Regions from separate parts of the Homo sapiens genome. Here region 2 is linked to region 1. Evidence: fine-mapped expression QTL. A gene starts in region 1. The other region holds a variant in brackets. All regions are shown on one strand. Distances are between the middles of the regions. Region 1 holds the start of TAFA4 (TAFA chemokine like family member 4). Region 2 overlaps TAFA1 (TAFA chemokine like family member 1).

Region 1 (8,339 bases):
GTTTCAACCACGGGCATATTAGCCTTTTTGGAGTGTCAGTTTTCTCATCTGTAACATGGAGATTATAATAAGAGAATTTACCTTGTATTTACCTTTACTTATATTTACATGGATTATAAAGATGATAATCCGTGTGAAGTACATAGTATAGTGAGCCACACACAAGCCTCCAATTAAGTCAGCTATCATTCTTATTAGTCTCCTCAGAAAAATTACTAAGTGCAAAATTGTGTTGCAAATTTTTAAAACTGAAGCTTCGCTAGAAACAAGAGGATTTTTTAAACAGGCCCAGGAGAGTCAGAACGTTCCTTTCAGGCATAGTCAGTCATCAGCACGTATTGATTAAGCACCAGGACATGCCAGTAGTGTTCTGGATGTTATACAAATGAGGAAAGTAAACACAATGTCCAAGTCACGTGGTGTCACTACCTACAAATACAGAGGCACATCCAGGGGTGTTTTGTGAATGTGTGGTGTGTGCAAAATACCGTTGGCGTGACCTTCACAGGTTCTTACATAAGAAAATAAATCATTTGACCCCATTTTTAGGAAACAGATGTTGATTGATTTTACACAACCTCAAAGGATGCAAAATGGGTCGCAAAGAGAGAGAGAAAGAATGTTACCGAATGAATGACAGGAATGTTTTCTTGTAAGAGGAACTACTGTCTCTGCCTGGAACAATTTTTGCCCAGATATTCGCTTGGATGGCTTTTTGTCAGTTAGGTCTTGACTCAAACGTCACTACCTCATAGGGACCTTCTCTAGGCAGCCAATCTAAATTAAACCCATCCTCATATCCTTCTAATGCTCTAGCCTTCTTTTATTTTCTTTTAGCACTTATTGTGCTCTGAAATGACCTTATTCATATATTTGTTGAATTATTTACTGTCCAACCTTCCCCACAAGAATACACGCAACTCACATGTGCCTTGTTTGTCACCATATCCTAGAGCCTGGCTCACAGCAGGCGCTTGATAAATAGCTGAATGAGGAAACAATTGGATAATTGGGGCTTAGTGGCTATTTCTTTTTTTTTTTTTTAATATAGCTTGCCTTTTTTGTGGTGATTTGGTTAGTAAATCTCAATTTATCAGATCATTCTGGCTTCTTGCTACTGCACAAGAGACATCAGGTCATTGGAAACTTACAGATGAGTCCCTTAACTGTACTATCTTACTTTAGAAACAAACACACTTTTATGCTTGTATGAATTTGCTAGGGCTGCCATACAAATACCACAAACTAGGTGGCTTAAACAACAGAAATTTCTTGTCTTACAGTTCTGGAGGCTAGAAGTCCAAGGTTAAGGTGTTAGCAGGGTTGGTTCCTTCTGAGGGCTGCAAAGAATTTGTTACACGCCTCTCTTCTCCCTAGGTGGTTTGCTGGCAATCTTTGGCATTCCTTAGCTTGTGGAAGTATCACTCCATCTCTGTCCTGATTTCTACATGGTGTTCTTCCTGTGTGCATGTCTGTCTCCAAATTTCCCCATTTTATAAGGACACAGTCATACTGGATTCGGGCTCATTCTAAAGACCTCATTTAATTTAATTCCATAAAGACCCTATCTCCAAATAATGTCACATTCTGTGGTACTGGGGGTTATGACTTAAACATATAAATTTTAGGGAGACAAATTTGAACCTCTAACAGTACTGAACATCCAGGATGGAAGAACATGGTATTAGGTTGAGCCAAACACAGTTGCTTACGTTTTGGTTTTCCTCACCAGGACAAGAAACCCCCAGTGCAGGAAAATTGGAGACATGGAAAACAGGGCTTAAGTAAACACGCAGATCTTTGCCAGAACCATGTTTGTCACACAGTGTGGAAGCAACGAATATCTGGTGAACAAATGAATGTGGACTTGTTCTTCTAAATGACTTGCTCCCTCACTTCTTCCAAGTCTTGGTTCAGATATTACCTTCTCAGTGGGAACTAGCCTAACTACTGTTCTTAAAACCACCATCTCCCCAGTACTCACCTTCTTTTCTGTTACTTTCTTTCTCTCTATAACACTGACCACTTTCTATCAAACTCTGTAATTCACTTATTTGTCATGTTAATTGCCCATCTCTCCCTACTAGAAGATAAGTTCCATGAACTCAGGAACTTTTCACTGTTGTGTTTCCTTCTCTATGTACCAGCACTTGTTACAGCGCCTGACACAGAGTAGGCCCTCAGTTTTGCTGAGTGAGTGAATGAATGAATGAATGCTGTTGAGAAAGAGCTCTGGAATCTCCTGGCATGCTATTTCAGGTTTTGCTTGGATCTCCCCTTTGGCCGTCACAGAACTTCAATGCTAGTCTTTAAAGGAAATCTCAAAGATCAAGCGCCTATCTCCAAAGCTTGAATTCTCTCTTAAACTGGTGACATCTTGATAACAAATTGCCTTTGAATGTAGAACCCCCATTTTAATAATAAGAGAGTAAGAGATTGAAACTGTTTAACAAGTAAAATGTGCTATGGTATGTGTGGTACGGGGAACAGAAGCAGAAGGCCTGCCATACGTTAGTTCAAGGGGTAGAGTCAGAGAAGGGTGAACATACTTTGGAGTGCAGCAGGGGCAGGATGGCACATAATTGTATGTCAATGCAGAGTAAAAGGACCAGAAGATGATAAGCCAAGCCAATGACAGTGAGCAGCATAGTGGTACAGAGCAACGTTTTCTAACTTTATGCATGCACCAGCCACTTGGGCATCTTGTTAAAATGAAGATTCTACTTCTGGGGTGGGGCCTGAAAGTCTGCAGTTCTAAAGTGTTCTCAAGGGACCGCTCTACGACGCCATGCTTTGCATACTAAAGAGCATGGATTTACTAGTTACCTGTGTAATCTTCAGTAAACGATTTAACTTCTCTGTGCTTCAGTTATCTCATCTATAAAATAGAGATCAGATGAACTAATCCCAGTAAAATGAATACCATTAAGTGACACTGATTATCAGTTACTTCACTTGCGGAAGAGTGGAGGGCATGACTAGGAATGGGGTGGGAGGAGGGAGTCAAAGAAGTCTTAGCTGAATTTTTTTTTTTTTTTTTTTTTTTTTTGAGACGAAGTCTCGCTCTGTCGACCAGGCTGGAGTGCAGTGGTGCGATCTCGGCTCACTGCAAGCTCCGCCTCCCCGGTTCACGCCATTCTCCTGCCTCAGCCTCCCGAGTAGCTGGGACTACAAGCACCCGCCACCACGCCTGGCTAATTTTTGTATTTTTAGTAGAGACGGGGTTTCACCGTGTTAGTCAGGATGGTCTCGATCTCCCGACCTCATGATCCACCCGCCTCAGCCTCCCAAAGTGCTGGGATTACAGGCGTGAGCAACCGAGCCCGGCCCCAGCTGTATTTTATACATTAAAAAAGAAAAGTATTTAGGTATTCATACGTGGGCCGAGTTTTCTCCTCTCTCATACAAGCACATTACACGCGAAGCCAGATTAGTTCATGAATGTGCTACTGCACGGGGTGGCTAAGAAATCCTGCTTGCAAACCGCTTTGGGTCCTGCGTGGAGAATGGTTTCGAGTGAGAGCCGAACCCTAAATCCGTCTTCCTTATGTGGAGCTCAACGCGACTCTCAGGTATTCAGGAAGAATACCTTTTGCTCAGCACCTGCGGAGTGGTGGCCACAGCGAGGCGCTCGGGAGAGGCGCCTGGAGGCCGGCAGTGGGGGCGCGCCGCCTGAGCAGGGGTGCGGGGCGGGGAGAAGGCCGGCCCACGTGGACCGCGGGGCCAGGCAGGGACAGGAGCAGCCGGGCGGCCCGGCCAATCAGCGCGTTCCGCGGCGGGCCCGGCCCCTCCTGGTCAGCGCGCTAGCTGGGCTCGGCTCCGCACTGCTAGCTGCGCGCCGCCCTGGACGGGGCGCACCGACTGCGCGCGCGGCTGCGGGCAAACATCGGGAGTCCTGCCTCAGCTGCCGCTTCTCCAGCAGCAGCTTCAGGCTTCTCCCGCAGGAGCTTCGGGCTTCTCCTGGTAGAGACGTGGGAACTTTTCTTCTCCTGGCGAGGCTGCAGAGGTGATGGGCCGCTCCCGGGGCTCCCGCGGGGAGGCGGCACGGTGAGCGTCCTCGGGCTCCGGTGCGGCGATCAGTACCTAGTTCCGGACGCGCCGGTCCGACTTGGATGCCGGCTCTAGTCGAGTAAGAAGGGTTGGAAGGGATAAGGAGGGGCGAGAGGATGGGGTGGGGGTGGATTTGGACCCTGTATTTAGGTGCTGTCTCGTGGGCAGCCGCTGCCTCTCGGCTGGTACCGAGTTAACTCAGCTCGGTGCAGCTCCCCTCATCCCGGCTCTCTGGGGCGCCGGGGAGAGTGCCTGTGCTGAGGTCGGCGTGCAACCCGAAGTTGGAAGGGGCACTCCGAAGTAAGGATGTGTGGCTGGAGAGAGGCAGCGGCCGCTTCCAGTTTCGGGGTTCATGTCTGACAGAATCCCCGGGGGTGCTCTGCTGATGCGGAGGAGGCCACTCGATGAATTGGTATAGGGGGTGGTGAACTCACCGTGAGCTCTTTTCTGGACAAGTCGACCTTAGCGCTTCATCCCTTTAATCTGAGCTAGGATCTTTCTAGGAGCAAGCAGGTGGGAGCCGGTCAGCGTCCCCCCGCCCCCACCCCCACCCTGAAGCTCTGGTTGCTAGGATCTTGCTTGAAGGGCGCAGCGAGCGCTCGGGAGGCGTCTTCCAGCTGGGAGCGCAAAGCTTCCCGCCCAAGTGGAGAACTGGAGCGGGTCTGGAAGTTGCGTCTCTTTCCGCGGGAGGCATCTCAGATTTGCCCACCAAGGTGGCATCTCTACATTTCTTTCGCTCTTTTTCCCACTTTGCCCTGTTAATCCGCTCCTAGAAGAGAGGGCATCCTTGACCCTACGCAAGGAGCTCGGGAGAGGATTGGAACTGGAAAGCTTGATCTCCTGCACCTGGTGAGGCTGCCCAAGCCAGACACAGTGCCGCTGGTGCGTTTTCTTCTCGAATCAGCATCATTTAACGTTTAGGGGCTCCACGGAGCCTTAGTAAAGCTGTGAATCAGCTCCTAAGCAGTATGTACATGCACGGGTTCACGGACTCGCCGAGACCTAGCCTGGTGCCCATCCCCCGTCACCGAGATTCAGGGACCCCCCTTTGGTTTAACGTCTTTATCCCTGAACTCTTTTCCCTTTTAACTTTTCAATGGTCTTCCCTCTGAGACAAGCAAGGTTGATGTGATGTGACAGGCGATCCCCGTGTGTGGGGATGGGCGCCTTCGAAGCTTTGGTCTGTTTCTGTCTCTAATATCCTTGGCATAAAGCTTGTCCACCATAACTCGTAGCTGCCACCTGCAGACTCGGTCACCCAAACTTGTGCACACTGATGGCCTAGCTTCCTAATCACACGCATCTTCGTTTGGCCCCCTCTAGAACACTCGCTGAGGAGGGAAGAGGTGGGGGCAGTTTGTGTCAGAGCCCAGTTCAGGAAGGCCTTGGATTTTTTTAAAGGCTAAAATAATTTAGGAACAGCCATTTTGCAATATAATTAGTGTTACCACTCAGTCACTGAGAACAAATGTATGACTTGAAGAATTCTTCAATAGCTCGCGTGGGTTTTATAGTGAGAAGAATTTCTGCTAAGTTTATAGTCATATCAGTGTGAAAGCCCAACACTTCCTCTAGATGGGAAATACAGGCCTTAATAAGGTAGTGTGAGAGCAGTTTTCAGAATCATTATGACGAATGATGACTTGTGTCCTCCCAAAATGACCGAGTGAGTTGGCATGGCTCATTTGTGGAAGAAGCTTTCTTCATATGCACGGACATTTCTTAATCAATATTCTCATAGCAGAAAGCCGTATTTCAAGGTTCCCTTCCTAAGTTCTTCTGTCTCATTGTTCTGCTTTGCGTGACTTTGCTTTCATCCCTCAGTACCATCTTAACTGCCCTTTGACACTTTAAAATTTATTATAAGGCTTCAAGTCACAATTTGACTTGGCCACTTTTCCCTGCTAAAGATAAGTAAGTTGTCCTGTCCAGAAAAGCAGTGGCTGCCAATTTCTCTATCTTTGAATGACTTTAATTGTATTACTTGTTCCCTTAGCACATACAAAAACCCCTACAAATATCTCTGCTTGATTATTGGATATTTTTCATTGAAGGCAACCATTTTTATATTTCTAGTACTAGAATATCCTAGGTCACTTGAATTTCAATATTCATTTTCTGATCTTTTTAGACATGTGTATTGTTTGATGACCTAGTTCCATTTAGTAATTAAAAAAGAAAAAGAAGAAACTCCTTTGCTCCCCGCTACCACCTCCTTTTCAGTGGTACCTAGCCTTTTCCTAATAGCTGCTTTTTTTCTGCACCACTCATTTATTGTTACACTTAATATAATACTTTGCTATGTAAATGGCATGTTGATGCATGTGATATTAAAACTGCATTCACTGGGGATTAACCATTGGATATGACATCATCAGCAGCCAATCCTTGATCTGATTTGAACATGCATTGACAAAAGTCATATTATCATATTGAGCAAGTGATTCTATATTGCCTGTGATGAATAAGGGAAAGAAGGAAGTCTTTTTGGCACTTACTAACTCTCCGTTAGCTGCCCAGTTTGAGAGTTTTGGGTATTTCTATACTAAGAGGCTTAGCTTAATAATAACATTCTCAGATTGCAATTTTATAGATCTCTTTAGAATTTGCATAAGTAGATTTTCCCCCTTGTGCTTTCTTCCTCTTTGCGAGTTTTTCACCCTGTGTTCTGGCTCTGTTTCTTTACAAATATGTAAAGACATCACAGTAAATGGACTAATCTTTTGCTTTTATTTTTTGTCCTAGAGATAGCCACGTAGGTGATGGGCTAATTTGAGTACATGAGTTCATTTCTTCAGGTGTTGGCTATTAAATCACTCAGGATTAGCAAGATGACTTAAAGTCCTGAAGCCAATCAATCATAAATGATTGGGAGGCCATACAGTATATTTATCCTAATTTGTCAAGATTCAGGATTGAGGGTGGGGGATTGAGGCCATAGGAAACAAGATTCACGATTCAGGCAATAGGAAACAAAGATATCCACAAAGGTATTGGTGAAGCGATCTTGGCCACATTAATCACTTCATAATTATTTGTTTTGAAAATGTTATTTCTGAAAGCCATGTCAGAACCTAGACAGCCCTGACTTCGAGACTTAAGTATGGTATGGCAGCCCTGACTTAGAGACTTAAGCTGTAGTATGGCACTGCACTTTGTAATGCCTCACTCAATTTGTGATCTCCTGTAACCCACCTCTCAAAAGATAAAATTGACCTTGACTTCCCATCTATTTGGTATCTGCTGAAAAATAAGAGAAATTCTTCCTGTTGTACAGTTGCTATTCAATTCATTTCCCTTCAGTCAGTCAAAAGGGCTCTTTTTTTTTTTTTAAATAAACTTAATTGTAAAATCTGGTTTAAGGAAACGCTCAAAGAATTTTAAATCTAGAAAGTACCTCAGATTTCACCTTTCTAGAAGATCAGGGGTAGGAGGTGTTGTCCTACCTTGGATCTATTATGTTATTTAAAAAACCTGGGATTAGAATCCCGGAGTCCTAATTCCTAGCCCAGTGCACTTTCCAATGAAGACTGGGAGAGAATGACTCCTGTGATGTGGTGGGACCCCTTCCCTTGGCTGTCTCTGCGGAGGAGGGCCACATTGGCTTCTTGCACCATCAGTTTGCTGGACTACCATGCTAGTTGAGCCCACCTCAAGGATTGGACAGCTGTATACACCAGCTAGCTTGGGTTACTTCCTAGTAGCTGCGACAGTATCCACAGTTATAAACGAAAGGTTTAAAGGGGAGCTGGCGATGGAAGAGTATTGGGCAGGGTGACGCAATTTGAACCTAACTGAACACATGGAAAGACATGGATGTTAGAATGATGGTCAGGCAGTTTAAGATAATGATTTATGGTTTATTTGTGAAAGAACTCAGAATATCAATCTATTAAGTGATAGGCTGCCCTTTCATACTTAGTGCCTTTTAGTTGCTATAAAAGCCAGTACTAGCCAATAATTTGGTACAACATTATTTTCTGGCATGATTGTGAATAACGATAATGGTACCCCACATTTGTTGAACACTCAGTATGTGCCAGCTGTAGCGTGTTGATGTTATGGAAACATTCTGGTTACTAGATGGCTTTCTTTATATGGATGAACTACTGATTTTCAGAGTTATGAATCTAAGGCAACATTGAATCTTTTTTAGTCATTCTTTTTAATTCAAAAGCTGTCAGGATCTTAGAGTAGCAAATCATTAACACAAGCATAAATAATTTTAATTCAGAAGTATGGTAGCATCAAATATTAGGGAGTTCTTGTTAATAAAATGACAAGACACC
Region 2 (8,339 bases), 490 kb after region 1:
AGTAGGCACAGATATTTGGTGGCCAGATATAAGAATAGTGAGGGAAAAAGGTAGCTGCCTTCCAGGGTTCTGTGCTTGTGCTTCTTAGAGGAAGGATGTTACCAGGAAGAGGCTGTCTTACCCAGGACTGCAATTTTCAGGCCCCTTGCAACAAGGTGGAACCCCTTACCAATGGAATTTGAGTGTATGTAATCTGAGTCATTTTCGAGCCAAGGTAATTACGAAGTAGATGGGCCTTCTCTACTCTCTGCCACTTGATGTGGATGCCTTTTGTAGTCATATATAACAGAGCCACGATACAGAGGTGATTCAGAGGCTTCCTGTATCACCACATGGAGGAGAGCTACCCCTACACCTGAATCAATTTTTATGTGAATGAGAAGTAAATATCTATTGCATCAAGCCACTGAATCAAGAATGTGGAGGTATACAGGACTATAACATGAAATTACTGACCCTCAATCCTTATCAGCTATCTGATGGAGAGAAACAGTTTATAGTAAAGATTGCCTGTGAGATATTTAATCTATTCTTTTCTGCAGGCACTAAAATCCATTTCTGGTTTCAGTCAGACTAGTTGAGTGCTGATGGCTACACTGAGCCATTTTGTGTATACTACCTTATTGTTAGCAAAGCATCCCATACATTTTGTAGATTTAGAATATAGATTTCTTCTCCTCCCTTTCCTCCCTGCCTCCCTCTTTCTTTTTTCCTTCATTCACTCACTAGTAGCCACTACGTGTCATAAACTCTACTGGGTTATTGAAATGTGATAAGAATATTAGTATTGCTATAGTTTGAATGTCTCCTCCAAAACTCATGCTAAAACTTAACAGTATTGAGAGGTGGGGCCTTCAAGAGATGACTGAGTCACATGAGTGCTCTGCCCTTATGAATGAATTAATCCCCTCATGGATAAATGAGTTGTCTTTGGAGGGGAATGGATGGCCTTAGAAGAAGAGGAAGAGAGACCTGAGCAAGCACATTAGCTTAGCCCCTTTGACATGTAATACCCTTTGCCACGTTGGGATTCTGGTCCAAGTCCCCACCAGCAAGAAAGCCCTCTCCAGATGCAGCTAGCTCCTGGGTGTCCACAACTGTAAGAAATAAATTCCTTTTCTTTAATAATTACTCAGTTTCAGGGATTCTGTTATAAGCAACAGAAAATGGACTAATTAAAAAAATTGATATAAGGAGTGGGGTGGTGGTGATCATGAATACCTGAAAATGTGGAAGCAACTTTGCAACTGCATAATGGGCAGAGGCTGGAAGAATTTGGAGCAGCAGGATTCTGGTGAGGGCTAAGAAAACAGGAAGACTAGGCTACAGCCCATGTATCAGTATATAATCACACATCTGGCCATTTATCCTTCCATGTAAAGTGCACAGCCAGGTACACTGCTCAAAGTTCTGCCCACTGGGAAGATATCCCTTCACTGCTGTCCTTCAGGGATGTCCTAGAAAGGGGCTGTAGTGCTGCAGCTGTCCACTTTCAGATGGTGCCTGCATATCATGCAGAACCATCTGTGAACCAGGCCCTAGTCTTCTCTTCCTCTGTCAACTGATCATAGGGAACTCCTCATGAAGCCCTCAGTTCAGGCTGAGGGAGAAAAGGCAGGGTGGCAGAGGTGGAGACCATGGGCATTTGAGACACTTCCTGATGTAACTTACTTGTGCCTTCAGGACCTTCTCGAGCCCGATCATGTATATATCAATTCTATTTGATGATGGAATGCTGGTGTGCACAACCCACTTTATGGCTAGATGGGTCAGAAAGTACCCAGTTCATGATAGGCAGTTCAGGTTGCATGATGAGTTGATGACCCATAGTTAAACGTTCAGTTTCCACCAAAGCCCAGTAACAGGCCAAGAGCTATCTCTCAAAAGGAGAGTAGTAATCTGCAGAAGATGGCAGGGCTTTGCTCTAAAATCTTAGAGGCCTTTGTTGTGATTCACCTATGGGGGCTTGCCAGAGGCTCCACACAGTGTCACTATCTGCCACTGACACCTCAAGCACCATTGGATCTGCTGGGTCATATAGCCCAAGTGGCAGAGCAGCTTACAAAGCAGCCTGCACCTGTTGCAGAGCCTTCTCTTGTTCTGGACCTCACTCAAAACCGGCAGTCTTTCAGGTCACTTGATAAATGGACTAGAGTAACACACCCAAATGAGGAATATGTTTCCTCCAAAATCCAAATAGGCCCACTAGGCCTTGTGTTTCTTTCTTGGTTGTAGGGGTGGCCAAATGCAGCAACTTATTCTTTACCTTAGAAAGAATATCTCGACAGACCCAACACCACTGGACCCCTAGAAATTTTACTGAGGTAGAAGATCCCTTAATTTTAGTCAGATATAGTTCCAGAGGGAGGAACACTGCCACCAGGAGACACAACAATGATTCCATTAAATTGGAAGTTAAGATTGCCACCTGGACACTTTGGGCTCCTCTACCTTTAAGTCAACAGGCTAAGAAGGGGGTTACAGTGTTGGCTGCGGTGACTGACCTGTATTATCAAGATAAAATCAGTCTACTATTCCACAATGGAGGTAAGGAAGAGTATGTGTGGAATACAAGAGATCTTAGTATTACCATTCCCTGTGACTAAGGTCAATGGGAAACTACAACAGTCCAATCCAGGCAGGACTACAAATGGCCCAGACCCTTCAGGAATGAAGGTTTGGGTCACTCTACCAGGAAAAATTCATGACCTCTTGAGGCATTTGCTGAAGGCAAAGGGAATACAGAATGGGTAGTAGAAGAAACTAGTCATTAATACCAGCTATGACCACGTGACCAGTTGCAGAAACGAGGGCTGTAATTGTCATATTTCCTCCTCCTTTTGTTAAAAACATGTTTGTGCATGTATACACTTGTGCTATAAAAAATCTTCATTTTGTTTCCTTTTTCCTTTATCATGTGCCCTAAAATTTATTGACTTCTGTATTAGTCCATTTTCATGCTGCTGATAAAGACATATCCAAGATTGGGCAATTTACAAAAGAAAGAGGTTTAATGGACTTACAGTTCTGTGTGGCTGGGGAGGCCTCACAATCATGGTGGGAGGTGAAAGGCATGTTTCACATGGTGACAGACAATAGAAGAGAGTTCGTGCAGGGAAACTTCTGTTTTTAAAGCCATCAGCTCTTTTGAGACTCATTCACTATCATGAGAACAGTGCAGGAAAGATCTGCCCCCATAACTCAATCACCTCCCACCCAGTTTCTCCCATGCCATGTGGGAATTGTGGGGGTTACAATTTGAGATGAGATTTGGAGGGGGGGGACACAGCTAAACCATATCAATTTCATATTGGCATTTAAGTGTTGTTAACTTTATGTAATAGCATTTGAGTTGGGGATTGGTGCAGTTCCAGTTGTTCAAAGGAAGTTGTATTATGTTAGGCATAATTATGATCTTATTATTGTCTTTATTTGAAGATTATGTATGATCTCAGGAGTTGTATATGCATTCAAGTTGACAAGGAATGGACTTGTGATTGTTAATACTGAGTGTCATCTTGATTGGATTGAAGGATGCAAAGTATCGATCCCGGGTGTGTCTATCAGGGTGTTGCCAAAGGAGATTAACATTTGAGTCAGTGGGCTGGGAAAGGCAGACCCACCCTTAATCTGGGCATTCACAATGTAATCAGCTACCAGCACAGCCAGAATAAAAGCAGGCAGAAGAACCTGAGAAGACTAGACTGGTTTAGCCTTCCAGCCTACATCTTTCTCCCATGCTGTATACTTCCTGCCCTCAAACATCGGATTCCAAGTTCTTCAGCTTTGGGACTCAGACTGGCTTCCTAGCTCCTCGGCCTGCAGATGGCCTGTTGTAAGGCCTTGTGATTGTGTGAGTTAATACTCCTTGATAAACTCATATATATATATATATATATATATATATATATGTATGTATATATATTCTATTACTTCTGTCCCTCTAGAGAACCCTGACTAATACAGCTTTGTAGAAGGCCAAACTCAAGAGTGATATACTAGGGTATGTGGCAGAAGAAATTTCTATGCAAAATATAGACGTTTCATGGTCACATTTGTCCACTTACACTGAGATTTGGGAGGAAAAGAATAATTTGAAGACAGAATTTATAAATAAAAAGAAAGAAGAGTAGAAAGATTTGGAAAACTCTCAGCCTGGCCATGTAAAAAGTGAAAAAGCATGTTCAGGAGAGAAAAACCAATGGTGTAGCCCAGTGACTGTTTCCTAAAGAGATTAGCATGGATAGAAGGGAGCCAAGTATTATTCCATAAGACAATGGAAGAAAGATCCCAAAGGCATTTTATAGATCTTTGAGGCTGCTGCTCCCATCACAGGCCCAGGGGGCTAGGAAGGCAGAATGATTTCAGGGGACAGGCCTGACACTCTCTACATGGGCTTGCTGCTCAGGGATACCACGACACTTTGCTCCCAGAACCCTGGTACAGCAATGTGTGGCCATCCTAGCTGTGGCTCAAGTGGCCTTAATTGAGATGAAACCCACTCCCCAGAAGATGCAAGCCATAAACTTTGGTGTCACCAAAGTGGTGCTAATTCTGCAGGCTTGCAGAAAACAAGAGCTATGGAAGCATGGCAGCCTTCACCTAGATTTCAAAGAATGTGTCAGACAACCTGAGGGCAAGGCAGAGACTTATCACTGGGGTGGAGCCACCACAGAGAACTTCCTCTAGAGCAATGCTGAGTGGAAAGGTGCGTTGAAGGTGCTCCAGGGAGTCCCCACCAGAACAATGCCTAATGGAGCCATGGGAGTGGGACTAACACCAAGACCCCA[T/C]AACTGTAGAGAGAACAGTGTGCAATGCAACCCTAAGTGAGCTGGGTAGACTGAGTCCAGCCAAGCCACAGGGGTTGGACTGCCCAAGGCCTTGGGGGCCCAACCACAACTGGTGTGCAGAAAATGCAGATATGGAGCCAGAGGAGACTATTCTGTTATTCTGGAGTCTTTTTTTCTGAGACAAGGTCTCACTCTGTTTCCTGGGCTGGAGTGCAGTGATACAATCCTGGCTCACTGTAACCTCCCACTCTGGGCTCAAGCAAAACTTCCACCTTAGCCTCCCAAGTAGTTGGGGCTATTGACATGTGCCACCAGACCCAATGAATTTTTGTATTTTTAGTAGAGACAGGGTTTTGTCTGTTGCTCAGGCTGGTCTCAAACTCCTGGGCTCAAGCAATCTGCCCAGCTCCATCTCCCAAAGTGCTTGTATTACAGGCATGAGCCACTGCACATGGCTAATCTGGAGTCTTATTACTTAATGTCTGCTCTTGGGTTTTGGACTTGCTTGGGGCCTGTTACTCCTTTCTTCTAGCCTATTTCTCCATTTTGGAATGGGAATGTGTACCCTATGTCTCTCCCACCGTGTGTCTTGGAAGTAGATGCCTTGTTTTGATTTCACAAAAAAGTAGACGGACTTTTGAGTTGGTGCTAGAACAAGTTAAGACTTTAGGGCTATGGGGTTGAAATGAATATATTTGTATGCGAGAAGGATATGAGTTTCGGGAGGCCAGGGGTAGAATGCTATGGTTTGAAAATTTGTACCCTCCAAAACTTATGTTAAAACTTAATCCCCAGTGTGGCAATATTGACAGGTGGGGCCTTTAAGGGGTAATTGGGTCATAAGGACTCTGCCCTTATCAATGAATTCATTTCTTAATGAATGAATTCCTTAATGGATTCATGGGTTTTCATGAGAGTGAAACTGGTGGCTTTATAAGAAGAGAAAGAGAGAATTGAGGTGGCATATTCCGTCCCCTTGCCATGTTATGCCCTGTGTTGCCTTGGGACTTTACAGAGTCACTCCTAGGAAGAAGGCCCTTACGAGATGCAGCCCTTTGGCCTTAGGCTTGTCAGCCTTCAGAACTGTAAGAAATAATTTTATTTATAAATTAACCAGATGCAGATATTCTCTTACAAGCAACATAAGAGAATGGACCATAAGAAAGTCCATAAGAAAATGGACTAATACAACTATTTTAAACTATATTCTCTTTATGTAGACCTGGACATATTTCTCTTTAACATTGTGCCAAGAATAGCACAATGTTATTGTGCTATTAAGCAACAGCCTGGATTAAGCTGGGAACATTCTAAATCTTGTAACCAATCTTGTTTCCCTCTTTGCATTGCCTGTTAGAAGGCTTACAGCCAAACTTGCGATGCATTGGTGGCATATTTATAGGATTGCGTGACCTTCTCTCAGTTCCCTCCCAGCTTTCTTTTAAACATCTCATCCTCATTTCCCCTGTCTTCTTACTTCTTTCATGTCTATATTACATTTTATGTTTACATTGCTGTGTGGGATTTGTCCATGTAAGTTACATTTGCTCTTTTATAAAATATTTATAAATAAAAAGAGAAAGAACAGAAACAGTTTTCAGCACTATTTAGAGTTTTCTAATAAAGTGGGCAAAATCTGGACAACAGAAGTGGAGCTGGCTGTATCTGTTAACAAGAGCCAAGGTGTCACCAGGAAAGGCATCTGCCTTCCTGAGTGCCAGGGGTTATTCATAACCAGTGACTCGCTGTTCATTTGTGAAGCTCTATGTTGACTTAATCACAACTTTCCACAGAGACATCTGTTGGTTCCACATTTGGGTTCAATTCAAATCAGAGCCCAAGTTTTGGAATGAACTCTGAGCAATCCTTAAATTTATTCTATTTTGTACAATATACACCTGCTGGTCTTACCTGCTTGGGGACTACATTATTAGATGACCAATTAATGAACACTTGCTGAAATTTCAACATTAGCCTGGAGCTCAAGAAAGAAATTTGGCCCCAACTTGACTTTGTAAGTTTTTTACCTATTACTCCCTGAGGCCTCAGCCAAACTAATTGGTGTCTTTGAAACATGCTTTGTGATTTCTCTCCTCTCTGTCCTGTTTCTCCTATGAACTTCACCTGAGTTAAGAACAATAGCTTACATCTATCAAACACTTATATGCCAGGTACTTATAAATCTTTTTACTTATTAACATGTTCAAAGCTTGCGTAGATCATATAAGGTAGATACTGTTATGCCCACCTTACAAATGAAGAAACTAAGGGCAGGGCATAAGAGTTGAATTCCTTTCATGTCTACATTACACTTTATCTGGTTGTGATGGAAATATCTATATAAGTCACCTTTAATGCCACATGGAAGATTTATAAATTAGAAATTAAAAGAACAGAAATAATTTTGTTTTCAGCAAGAGCCAGAATTTCAATCCATTCTACCTTATTCCCCAGCCCGTGCTCTTAACCACTACAGCTTTGGTTCTCAACTCTGGTTATCCCTTAGTATCCCTCATGGAGCTTTTAAAAAATGCAAATGTCTAGACCCTGCTTCAGCTCAATCAAGTAAAAATATCTAGGGGTGTGGCCAAGCCACTGATATTTTAAAAAACCTCCCTAGGTGATTCTAACATGTAGTCTGGCAGGACGTTAATCGTACTCTTTAATTTCCCTTATATGAAGGGCCTGTTTTTACATGGTTAAGATATGTTATTCTCAGTCCTTCTTACTTTTTCTGCATAAGTAGAATGAACACTCCCCTTGCCATAGTGATCCTTGATGCAAAACCAAAAGCATGCATTCACAGTCATGTGGCTAAGATGCCAAGATTTCCTATTGGAGATACTACTTCTTTCATAATCTCCACTCTAGTTTTTGCCAGCAAAACTGTGATGTAACTTTGTTACCCTAAATATCAGAGCATTGACCTAAAAATCAGAATGGACCTGTTTCCTTTCTGACATTTCTTGGGTTTATTCTCTGTATTGGTTAGAAATTTGGGCTCTAAGTACAATGAATAGCAATTATACTAGAAACAATTTAATTCCTGTGCTATGTAGTGAGACATCCAAACACAGATCTAACCATAACATTCATTGACACAAAACCCTTTAGTGCCTGATTCCACTGCTCTTGGGCAGTTTCAATATCCACCATGGCTACCAGGCTGCTGCATGAGCTCATTCCTAATGAGATTTCCAGTCTCACTTCTTTCCAGACCCATCCCACACCCTTCTCTACCCAGGCACATTGAACTTCTTGCAGCTCCTTGGATTCATTAGGATCCTTCTTGTTGATGCTGGGCTTTTGCACATGCCATTGTTTCTGCCATGGACATTCGATCCCATCCTCTTACCTAGTCACTTAGAGTCCCAGACTGGATGTTAGTTCTGATGAGAAGCCATCTAGAACACCCTCCTGCTTCCATCATTTAACACCCTAACCTCTGCTCTCAGAGCACTCTGGGCTCATCTCCATCAGAGCACACATCACACAACTTTGCAATCACCAATTTGCCTGTCATCTCCCCTGAACTTTATAATCATTGAA

What was found. PIP is the estimated chance that this variant, and not a neighbour inherited with it, causes the effect. A credible set is the group of variants that fine-mapping cannot tell apart.
Region 2: its variant is the best candidate, but not a certain one, in a credible set for the expression of TAFA4 in transverse colon (GTEx, PIP 0.90).

The regions. Positions count from the first base shown.
Region 1 is chr3:68,928,030-68,936,368 of GRCh38, reverse strand. TAFA4 (TAFA chemokine like family member 4) reads left to right here and starts at 3,822. Exons shown (of 6, transcript NM_182522.5): 1 at 3,822-4,129.
Region 2 is chr3:68,434,985-68,443,323 of GRCh38, reverse strand. The region is part of intron 3 of TAFA1 (TAFA chemokine like family member 1); the gene reads right to left. Among named protein-coding and RNA genes, the nearest start is that of TAFA1, 430 kb to the right of the region's middle. The variant T/C (reference allele first, on the strand shown) is at 4,791.